Linked DNA regions of Homo sapiens: region 2 is linked to region 1. Evidence: fine-mapped expression QTL. A gene starts in region 1. The other region holds a variant in brackets. All regions are shown on one strand. Distances are from middle to middle. Region 1 holds the start of ZNF586 (zinc finger protein 586). Region 2 has its middle 9.0 kb from the start of ZNF671.

Region 1 (5,380 bases):
ACCGCACCCGGCCAACTTTTTTGTTTGTTTGTTTGTTTGTTTGTTTGAGACGGAGTCTCGCTCTGTCCCCCAGCCTGGAGTGCAGTGGCGTGATCTCGGCTCACTGCAACCTCCGCCTCCCGGGTTCAAGCCATTCTCCTGCCTCAGGCTCCGGAGTAGCTGGGACTACAGGCGCCTGCCACCACGCCCAGCTAATTTTTTTGTATTTTTAGTAGAGACGGGGTTTCATCATATTAGCCAGGATGGTCTCGATCTCCTGACCTCGTGATCCGCCCGCCTCGGCCTCCCAAAGTGCTGGGATTACAGGTGTGAGCCACCGCGCCCAGCCAACTTTTTTTTTAAGTATAGAAAATTTTACAGGTTGGGCGCGGTGGCAGGCGCCTATAATCCCAGCTGCTCGGGGGGCTGAGACAGGAAAATCACTTGAACTTGGCCAAGAGGCGGAGGTTGCAGTGAGCCGAGATCGCAGCAATGCACTCCAGCCTGGGTGACAGAGCGAGACTCCATCTCAAAAAAAAAAAAAAAAAAAGAGGTGGAGATTTCCCAGAACTGAGGTTCCCTCCCCTTTTTAGACTATATAGGGTAACTTCCAAACATTGCCAGGGCATTGGTATACTGTCATGGCGCTGGCGGGAGTTAGTATGCTAATGCATTATAATTAGCGTATAATGAGCAGTGAGGATGACCACAGGTCACTTTCATCACCATCTTGGTTTTGGTGCGTTTTAGCCAGCTTCTTTACTGCATCCTGTTTTATCAGCAGGGTCTTTGTGACCTGCATCTTGTGCCAACCTCCTATCTCATCCTGTGACTAAGAATGCCTAACCTGGGAATGCAGCCGAGTATTTCTCAGCCTTACTTTATCCAGCCCATTTTCAAGATGGAGTCACTCTGATTCCAATGCCACTGACAATGATAAGCACTTGCCAGCAAAGAGGTGAACGCATGGATTTAAGGCACTTGAAATATCTCAGTGTAAAAGCACCCTGTGCATGTAGCAGGACGAGCCGCAGACAAAACCTCTCAGACACCGAGTTGCAGAAGGAAGGGCTTTATTCAGCTGGGAGCATTGGCCAGCTACTGTCTCAAAATCTGAGCTCCCGGAGTGCACAATTTCTGTCCCTTTTAAGGGCTCACAACACTAAAGATTTCACATGAAAGGGTCGTGATTGATTTGAGCAAGCAAGGGGTATGTGACAGGGGCTGCATGCACCGGTGGTCAGGGAGGAACAGAACAGGGCAGGGAGTTTCACAATGTTCTTCTATACAATCTAAGGAATCTATGAATAACATCGGCTTCTAAATCATAAGTTGATTTTTAACTACTGGGTTTAGGCCAGGCGGGCCTAGGCCTGGTTTCGGGCCTGGCGCGGGGTTGCCTGTCTTTGGTTTTACTTCCTTGTTGTTTTTACTGAATATAAAACAATGTGAGAGGGTCTCTCTCTTCTCTCATGCATACATACTCCATGTTTGAACACCGCAGCCATTGTCCTGTAACATAATAGCATTTGTCTCATTAGCTTTTTGATGTTGATATCAGATTTCTAGAGGAATCTGTAGGTTAAAGATATAAATAAAAGTGTTGCTAATGGGCTGAGAACGGTGGTTCACGCCTGTAATCCTAGCACTTCGGTAGACCATTGCAGGCAGATCACTTGAGGCCAGAAGTTCGAGACCAGCCTGGCCAAAATGAGGAAACCCCGTCTCTACTAAAAATACAAAAATTAGCAGGGTATGGTGGCACACGCCTGTAATCCCAGCTACTCGGATGGTTGAGGCACGAGAATCGCTTGAACCCGGGAGGCATAGGCTGCAGTGAGCCAAGATCACACCACTGCACCCCAGCCTGAGTGACAGAGAGAACTATGTCTTAAAAAAAAGACAAAAAAAAAAAAAAAAGGAAGAAGCCGAGCATCACAAATTCTGAAATAAGAAGTCTCCAAACACGCGGGCAATCAGTTGCACACAGTACCCCCAGAAATGTGCGTATGGCCTCTTCTAAGATGGGAGACCCTCCTCCGCATCTGGACCTGGAGTCGCCATTTCCTAGCGCCCCTCGCAGTGGAGCTTGCCCCTTTCTTCGGAAAGTCGGAAGAAAGCCACCTTAAGCGCTGCCCATGTCTGGGAACTACATTACCCAGAATCCGCCCTGCGAAATGGTAACGTGGCTGAGCCAATGAAGCTTCAGAGAAGCCGTGCCATTGCCGGGGCACGTAAAGTCAAGCCAGGACTTCCGGCGTCCTAGCCGTGGCAGCCATTTTGGCCTGTCAGGTCCATCCGGCGATGCTGGGTCTGGACGAGCTCGGGAGGAGTGGTTGTGGCCATTGCACACAGGCGGATCTGAGGTTCGGCGACGCCGCTGGTCGCGACCCGGGACAGGACAACGACAGGAACACCGCCGAGCCCGCGTTCCCCCCCCGCCCAGAGTCATGGCGGCAGCAGCCGCTCTGAGGGCGCCTGCTCAGGTGAGCGCTGCGACCTCCGGGCCTTACCCACCCTACCCACCCAGACCCTGAGGCCCCTGATCGTGAGGGCCGCCTCCTCGCGTCCCTGCAGCCCAGGCCTCTGTCAGGGACGGAGAGGCGCCGGCGGGTGGGATCCCTGTTTCCGACACCCAGTTGATGCGGTCGGCAGAGCGAGACTGGCGGAGGGCAAAGGCCTGCAGGCGCGACTGAGGCAGGAGGATGCGGAACACGGGGACATCGTGTGTCTACTGGGAAAGAAGTGTGATACGGAGTTATTTCTTTTTTTTTTTTTTTTTGAGACGGAGTCTCACTCTGTCGCCCAGGCTGGAGTGCAGTGGCGCGATCTCGGCTCACTGCAAGCTCCACCTCCCCGGTTCAAGCGATTCTCCTGCCTCAGCCTCCCGAGTAGCTGGGATTACAGGCATGCGCCACCACGGGGTTTCACCATGTTGGCTAGGCTGGCCTCGAACTCCTGACCTTAGGTGATCCGCCCACCTCGGCCTCCCAAAGTGCTGGGAATACAGGCGTGAGCCACCGCGCCTGGCCGAGGCGGAGTTGTTTCTTCAGTACCAGGCTGAGGGTTGAACTTTGACTGTGAGGACGCTAAAAGCCATGGACAGTTTTGAACAAAGGAGGAAATCTGTGTTAGAGTTGCGATTCCCAAAAGATGTTCGAAGGAAGAACAGAGTTGAAGGCAGTGATGAGGACATTGAGAGGTTGAATCATTGAGAGGTGACATTGAGCACTGGGCCACAAGATTAGAGACTCAGTCTGAAGTCATCTGGCTGCAGGGCCAAAAAAAGCTTACAGAGAAGCCTGAGTCTATCAAATCCGAGCACAGACACATTTGTGAAAGCCCTGCCTTTTGGCACACCTCATGGCTACAGAAGCACTTACAGAATCCACAGTAGGAAGTAGGGGATGCTCTAGTCCTTCACTGGTCCTCATCCTATCCCACATGTCTAGATCTTGGCATCTTTTTTTTTTTTCGGCGACGGGTTCTCACTCAACACCCAGGCTGGGTTGCGGTGACGCGATCACGGCGCAGCACGGCCTCGACCTCTCCGGGCTCAGGAGAGCCTCTCATCTCAGTCTCCCGAGTAACTGGCTTTTTGTATTTTTAGTAGAGGTGGGGTTTCACGGCCGGGCGCGGTGGCTCACGCCTGTAATCCTAGCACTTTGGGAGGCCGAGGCGGGCGGATCACGAGGTCAGGAGTTTGAGACCATCCTGGCTAACACGGTGAAATCCCCCCTCTACTAAAAATACAAAAAATTAGCCAGGCCTGGTGGCACACACCTGTAGTCCCAACTACTTGGGAGGCTGAGGCAGGAGAATCGCTTGAACCCGGGAGGCAGAGGTTGCAGTGAGCCGAGATCGCGCCACTGCACTCCAGCCTGGGCGACAGAGAAAGACTCCGTCTGAAAAAAAAAAAAAAAAGAGAGAGAGAGAGATGGGGTTTCGCCATGTTGCCCAGGCTAGTCTCGAACCCTTGGGCTCAAGCAGTCCTCTTGCTTCGGCTTCCCAAAGTGCTGGGATGCCAAGCAGGAACTACCGCACCTCCTAGGACACTTAAGTGCCATTTCTCCGGTCCTTCAATCTGGGGATCTTGGAAAAACCTCAAACCCCAAACCTACATCAGTGACATAGGTTATGGGGAGTTGTTGCTATGTCTGTCAACTAATGTAACACATGTGGAGGGTTCACCCAGGAACTGATACTGGGGTGTGCAAATACTTACTTAGAAGTGAAACTAGAGGGGTGAGGTGATGTTACCAATTTCTTAATAGGCGCTGTCTGGTTACTGAGTGGGCAACAGACTGTGGGGTTGAGGGAGGAGGAAGATCAAACTGGAAGCTACTGCCCTAGTCGAGGTGAGGATTAATGGACTAGAGTTGTGGCTTAGGCAATGTGGCTAGATCTGGATTTGTGTTTTTTAGAGGGGCAAGTCAATTTTTTTTTTCCCAAGATGGAGTCTGGACCTGTTGCCCAGGCTGGAGTGCAATAGTGGAATCTTGGCTCACTGCAACCTCCGCCTCCTGAGTTCAAGCGATTCTCCTGCCTCAGCCTCCGAAGTAGCTGGGATTACAGGCGCGCGCCTCCACACCCAGCTAATTTTTGTATTTTTAGTAGAGACTAGGTTTCGCCATATTATCCAGGCTGCCTCGAACTCCTGACCTCGTGATCCACCCGCCTTGGCCTCCCAAAGTGCTGGGATTACAGGCTTGAGCCACCGTGCCCAGCCTGGCAACTCAATTTTTAAATGTGAACAGTGAGAGCTTGAGAGGATTCAGGAAACACCCCTGGGTTTTTTATCTTAGCAGCTGTAGCAATGGGAGCTGCATCAACTGAGATGAGCAAGTTGATAGCAGGTGTAATATTCACTGAGGCTATCAGGAGGTTTGTTTTGGCCATTCTGCGTGGAAAAAAATACAAATTGCTTTTGCTCTGCTCTCCCCCACAACAATCAACACAGAGTACTTCTGTGACTAGATAATGTGTGGATGGTTTTCCTCATACACCAAGTAGTTCTGCAGTGGACATCAGATCCCACAGGGTGAAGTCTCAGTCCCACGGGACTGTCCGCCAACCCCTTTCGATGCCAATCACAAGCCCCAGGATGTTTTTTTTTTTTTACCTGTCCTTTGACTGACTTGATAAAAATCAGGTTCCCATGACCCCTTCCTCGGCTTCCATTAAATTGCTAGAGCCAGTCACAGAACCTCAGGAGATGCTTTAATTTGCCAGTTTATTTTAAAGAGTATTTATTACAAAGGTTACAGATGAAGAGATGCATAAGGGGAAGCGACCCAGAGCTTTTATGATCTTCAGGCACACCACCATCCAGGAACTTCCATGTGTTTGGCTATTTGGAAGCTCCCCAGACCCTGTCTTTATGGGGTTTTATGGAGGCTTT
Region 2 (5,380 bases), 33 kb before region 1:
CATCTGAAGGCACGAAACTCACTGGTAATAGTAACTACACAGAAAAAAAAAACAATATAGTAGCAATGTAACTGTGATGTGTAAACTCATATCTTGAGTAGAAAGACTAAAATATGAACCTATCAAAAACAATTCCAACAAGTTTTCAAGACATAGACAGTACAATAAGATATACATAGAAACAAAAAATTTAAAAGCTGGGTGACATAGTTAAAGTGTAATGTTTTTATTAGTTTTTCTCTTGTTTGTTATTTGTTTATGGGATCAGTGTTGTCATCAGTTTAAAATAATGGGTTATAAGATATAGTTTACCATGGAAGCTTCATGGTAAACTAAATTCAAAAACCTACAACAGATACCAAAAAATTTTTTAAAAAGAAATTAAAATATACAACCAGAGAAAATCACCTTCACAATAAGGAAGACAGGAAGGAAGGAAAGAAGGAAGAGAAGACCACCAAACAACATGGCAGCAGTAAATCCTTACTTATTAATAAAACATTGAATATAAATGGACTAAAGTCTCCAATCAAAACACACAGAGTTGCTGAATGAATAAAAATAAAGACCCAATGCTCTATTGCATACAAGAAACACCCTTCACCTATAAAGACACACATAGATTAAAATAAAAGGATGGAAAAAGATATTTCATGCCACTGGAAACGACGAAATAGCAGGAATAACTACATGTATATCAGAAAAATAGATTTCAAGAGAAAAACTGTGAAAAGAGACAAAGTCATTATATATAATGCTAAAGGGATCAATTCAGCAAGAGGACATAATCTTTGTAAATATATATACACTCAACACTGGAGCACCCAGATATAAAAGTAAATATTATTAGAGCTAAAGAGACAGATAGAGTCTGACACAGTGATAGCTGAAGATGACAACACCCCACTTTCAGCATTGAACAGGCCTTCCAGACAGAAATGGACTTAATCTGCACTATAGAACAAATGGACCTAATAGATATTTATAGAACATTTCATCCAACAGCTTCAGAATACCTATTCTTCTCAGCACATGGATCATTCTCAAAGAAATACTATATGTTAGGCCATAAAATATGTCTTGAAACTTTTTTAAATTGAAATAATATCAAGTACCTTCTCTGACCACAAGGCAATAAAAGTAGAAATCAGTAACAAGTGGACTTTCAAAATGCTACAAACACATGGAAATTAAACAGTCGTCTTCTGAATGACCAGTGGGTCAATTAAGAAATTGAGAAGTTGGGCTGGGCATGATGGCTCACGACTGTAATCCCAGCACTTTGGGAGGTGGAGCCAGGCGGATCACGAGGTCAGGAGTTCAAGACCAGCCTGACCGACATGATGAAACCCTGTCTCTACTAAAAATACAAAAATTAGCCGGGCATGGTGGCACACACCTGTAATCCCAGCTACTCAGGAGGCTGAGGCAGGAGAATTGCTTAAACCCAGGAGGTGGAGGTTGCAGTGAGTGGAGATTGCGCCATTGCACTCCAGCTTGGGAGACAGAGTGAGACTCCATCTCAAAGAGAAAAAAAAAAAAGAAAGAAATTGAAAAGTTTTTTGAGGCCAGGCGCATTGGCTCATGCCTGTAATCCCAGCACTTTGGGAGGCCAAGGCAGGTGGATCACCTGAGGTCAGGAGTTCGAGACCAGCCTGATCAACAAGGTGAAACCATGTCTCTACTAAAAATACAAAAATTAGTCGGGCATGGTGGCGGGCGCCTGTAGTCCTAGCTACTCATGAGGCTGAGGAATTGCTTGAACCCAAGAAGGTGGAGGTGGCAGTGAGCCGAGACTGCGCCGCTGCACTCCAGCCTGGATGATGGAGCAAGACTCTGTCTCAAAAAAAAAAAAAAGAAAAGAAAAGTTTTTTGAAACAAATGATAATAGAAACACAGCATGCCAAAATCTGTGGGATACAGAAAAATAAGTACTAAGAAGAATGTTTATAGCTATAAGTGCCTACATTACAAAAGTAAAAAAAAAAACTTTAAATAAACAACCTAATAATGCATCTTAAAGAATTAGAGATGCTAGAGCAAACCAAACCCAAAGTGAGTAGAAGAAAATAAATAGCTGGGCGCAGTAGCTCACGCCTGCAGTCCCAACACTTTGGGAGGCTGAGGCAGGTGGATCACCGGAGGTCAGGAGTTCGAGACCAGCCTGACCAATAAGGTGAAATTCCATCTCTACTAAAAATATAAAAATTAGCCAGACGTAGTGGCAGGCACCTGTAGTCCCAGCTACTCAGGAGGCTGAGACAGGAGAATTGCTTGAACCCGGGAGGTGGAGGTTGCAGTGAGCCAAGATCACGCCACTGCACTCTAGCCTGGGCAACAGAACAAGACTCTGTCT[CA/C]AAAAAAAAAAAAAAAAAAGGAAAATAAAATAATAAAGATTAGAGCAGAAATAAATGAAACTGAAACAAAGAAAACAATACAAATGTGTTCAACAAAATGATTTTTTTTGTTTGTTTGTTTTTTGTTTGTTTTTTTTGAAATGGGGTCTTGCTCTTATCACCCAGGCTGGAGTGCAATGGCAGGATCTCTGTTCACTGCAACCTCTGCCTCCTGGGTTCAAGCAATTCTCCTGCCTCAGCCTCCCAAGTAGCTGGGATTACAGGCACCCACCACCATGCCCGGCTAATTTTTGTATTTTTAATACAGACGGGGCTTTGCCATGTTGGTCAGGCTGGTCTCGAACTCCTGACCTCGTGATCTGTCCACCTCGGCCTCCCAAAGTGCTGGGATTACAGGCGTGAGCCACCACGCCCGGCCGAGAAATTGGTTTTTTGAAAAGTAAACAAAATAAAAAATCCTTTAGCCAGACTAAGAAAGATAAACCAAATAAAATAGAAGTGAGAAAGAAGACTTTACAGCCAATACTGCAGAAATTCAAAGGATCATTAGAGGCTACTATGATCAACTGTATGCCAAAAATTGGAAATTATAGAAAAAATGGACAAATTCCTAGACACATATAACTTACCAAGATGAATTATGAGGAAATCCAAAACCTGAACTGACAAATAGCAAGCAATGAGATTGAGGCTGTAATAAAAATTTTCCCAGCAAAGAAAAGCCTGGGACCCAATGGCTTCACTACTGAATTTTACCAAACATTTAAAGAACTAACCCCAATCCTACTCGAACTATTCCCAAAAATAAGAGGAGGAGAAAATACTTCTAAATTCATCATACAAGGTTGGTATTACCCTGATACTAAAATAATTTTTTTTCTATTTCCATTTCAATAAGAAATAAGAAAAAGTAAAACAAAGACATATTTGAACCTAATATATTCTTCAGTGATATCATTCCTTTACTGTAAGGAATACTTTTTTTTTCTTTTTTCTTTTTTTTTGAGATGGAGTCTTGCTCTGTCACCAGGCTGGAGTGCAGTGGTGCGATCTCGGCTCACTGCACCCTCCTCCGCCCAGGTTCAAGTGATTTCCCCTGCCTCAGCCTCCCAAGTAGCTGGGACTACAGGAGTGCGCCACCACGCCTGGCTAATTTTTTTGTATTTTAGTGGATACTGGGTTTCACCATGTTGACTAGGATGGTCTCGATGGCCTGACCCCGTGATCCGCCCGCCTCGGGCTCCCAAAGTGCTGGTATTACAGGCGTGAGCCACCACGCCTGGCCGGAGTACTTGTTTTTCAATACCACAGGAGCTATGAGCTGGTCCTCCATTTTGTATCAAAGAATGTGTCCCCAGGTGACAAGATGCAGATTCCAAGACATTGAATCAATATGATGCCACCATCGCTTTCTTTCTGTTCTATGACATCTTTCTAGTCTTACCTTACTATTTCCTTGGCTCTCAGTTGGTTTTTCCTGAGTTCTCAGAAATTGAAATAATACACACTTTGTAGAAATAAGAATTTCATGTTAGTCAAGTCTCTAGGATAGCCATGGGCTCCACTTAATTATCTCAGAACTTACAGCCCCATGTCCTCTGCTCACTATCCATTGAGATTTATGTGTTCTCAGACTTCACAGAAACTTTTCTAGCTACTTATGTCATTCTCAGTGGTAACTTCATTTATCCACAATATTAACTAATTTTCTCAGTCCAAGCTGTTTTCCAGAGGTAATCTCCAGTCCCCATGCCGAAACTATCATTGTACTTACTGCTGAAATGATAGTTCCTTCCCAGCAAGAAGGTGAGATTATTGTACCCAGAATCTTTTCTCAGGGTTCAAATATCCACTTTCCCCATGGCAGGAATGCTGACACTCCAGCCACGGTTTTGTAAATGTGAATTAGTAAATACCAACTATTCCCAGGTGAGTGTTGTGGGCAGCAAGCTACCCAGGTGCTGAGGCAAGAGACCGAGGGCATGAGCCATTCCAGTATAATAAAATATATAAAACAACAAGAGTTATACTAGATCTAGATCATAGATGTAATTATATATGAATATCATTAATCATTAGTTTGTAGCAATTACTCTTTATTCCAGTATTATAATAATACTCGCTCTATAATCATAACCTAGAAAAAACCAGGCCATACAGAGATAGGAGCTGAGGGGACACAGTGAGAAGTGACCAGAAGACAAGAGTGCGAGCCTTCTGTTATGTCCAGACAGGGCCACCAGAGGGCTCCTTGGTCTAGCGGTGATGCCAGCATCTGGGAAGTCTGGTCTAGCGGTAGCCTTAGTGTCAAGGAAAAACAACCGCTACTTAGCGGACCGGGAAAGGGAGTCTCCCTTTTCCCCGGGGGGAGTTTAGAGAAGACTCTGCTCCTCCGTCTCTTGTGGAGGGCCTGACATCAGTCAGGCCCACCCGCAGTTATCCGGAGGCCTAACCATCTCCCTGTGATGCTGTGCTTCAGTGGTCACGCTCCTAGTCCACCTTCATGTTCCATCCTGTACACCTGGCTCTGCCTTCTAGATAACAGTAGCAAAATTAGTGAAAGTACTAAAAGTCTCTGATATGCAGAAATAATGGTGTAAGCTGTCTCTCTCTCTCCCTCTCTCTCTCTGCCTTGGCTGCCAGGCAGAGAAGGGCCCCGCGTCCAGTGGACACATGACCCACATGACCTTACCTATCATTGGAGATGACTCACACTCTTTGCCCTGCCTCTTTTGCTTTGTATCCAATAAATAACAGTGCAGCTAGACATTCAGGGCCACTACCAGTCTCCGCGCATTGGTGGTAGTGGTCCCCCGGGCCCAGCTGCCTTTTCTCTTATCTCTTTGTCTTGTGTCTTTATTTCTACACTCTCTCGTCACCGCACACAGGGAGAGACCCACCGACCCTGTGGGGCTGGTCCCTACAGAGTGTTACAATCAGAAGGAACCAGTTCTGCTCTGAGGTTGAGACATACTCTGAGGGACCTGGAGACATGGTGCAACCTCCTCTCCTTGCCTTATGCC

What was found. PIP is the estimated chance that this variant, and not a neighbour inherited with it, causes the effect.
Region 2: its variant is the best candidate, but not a certain one, in a credible set for the expression of ZNF586 in monocytes after LPS (Fairfax 2014, PIP 0.87).

What each region holds. Positions count from the first base shown.
Region 1 is chr19:57,767,414-57,772,793 of GRCh38, forward strand. ZNF586 (zinc finger protein 586) reads left to right here and starts at 2,263. Exons shown (of 3, transcript NM_017652.4): 1 at 2,263-2,465. The coding sequence starts at 2,430. RefSeq lists enhancers at 1,987-2,526, 2,248-2,497.
Region 2 is chr19:57,733,923-57,739,302 of GRCh38, forward strand. No RefSeq gene overlaps it. Among named protein-coding and RNA genes, the nearest start is that of ZNF671, 9.0 kb to the left of the region's middle. The variant CA/C (reference allele first, on the strand shown) is at 2,357.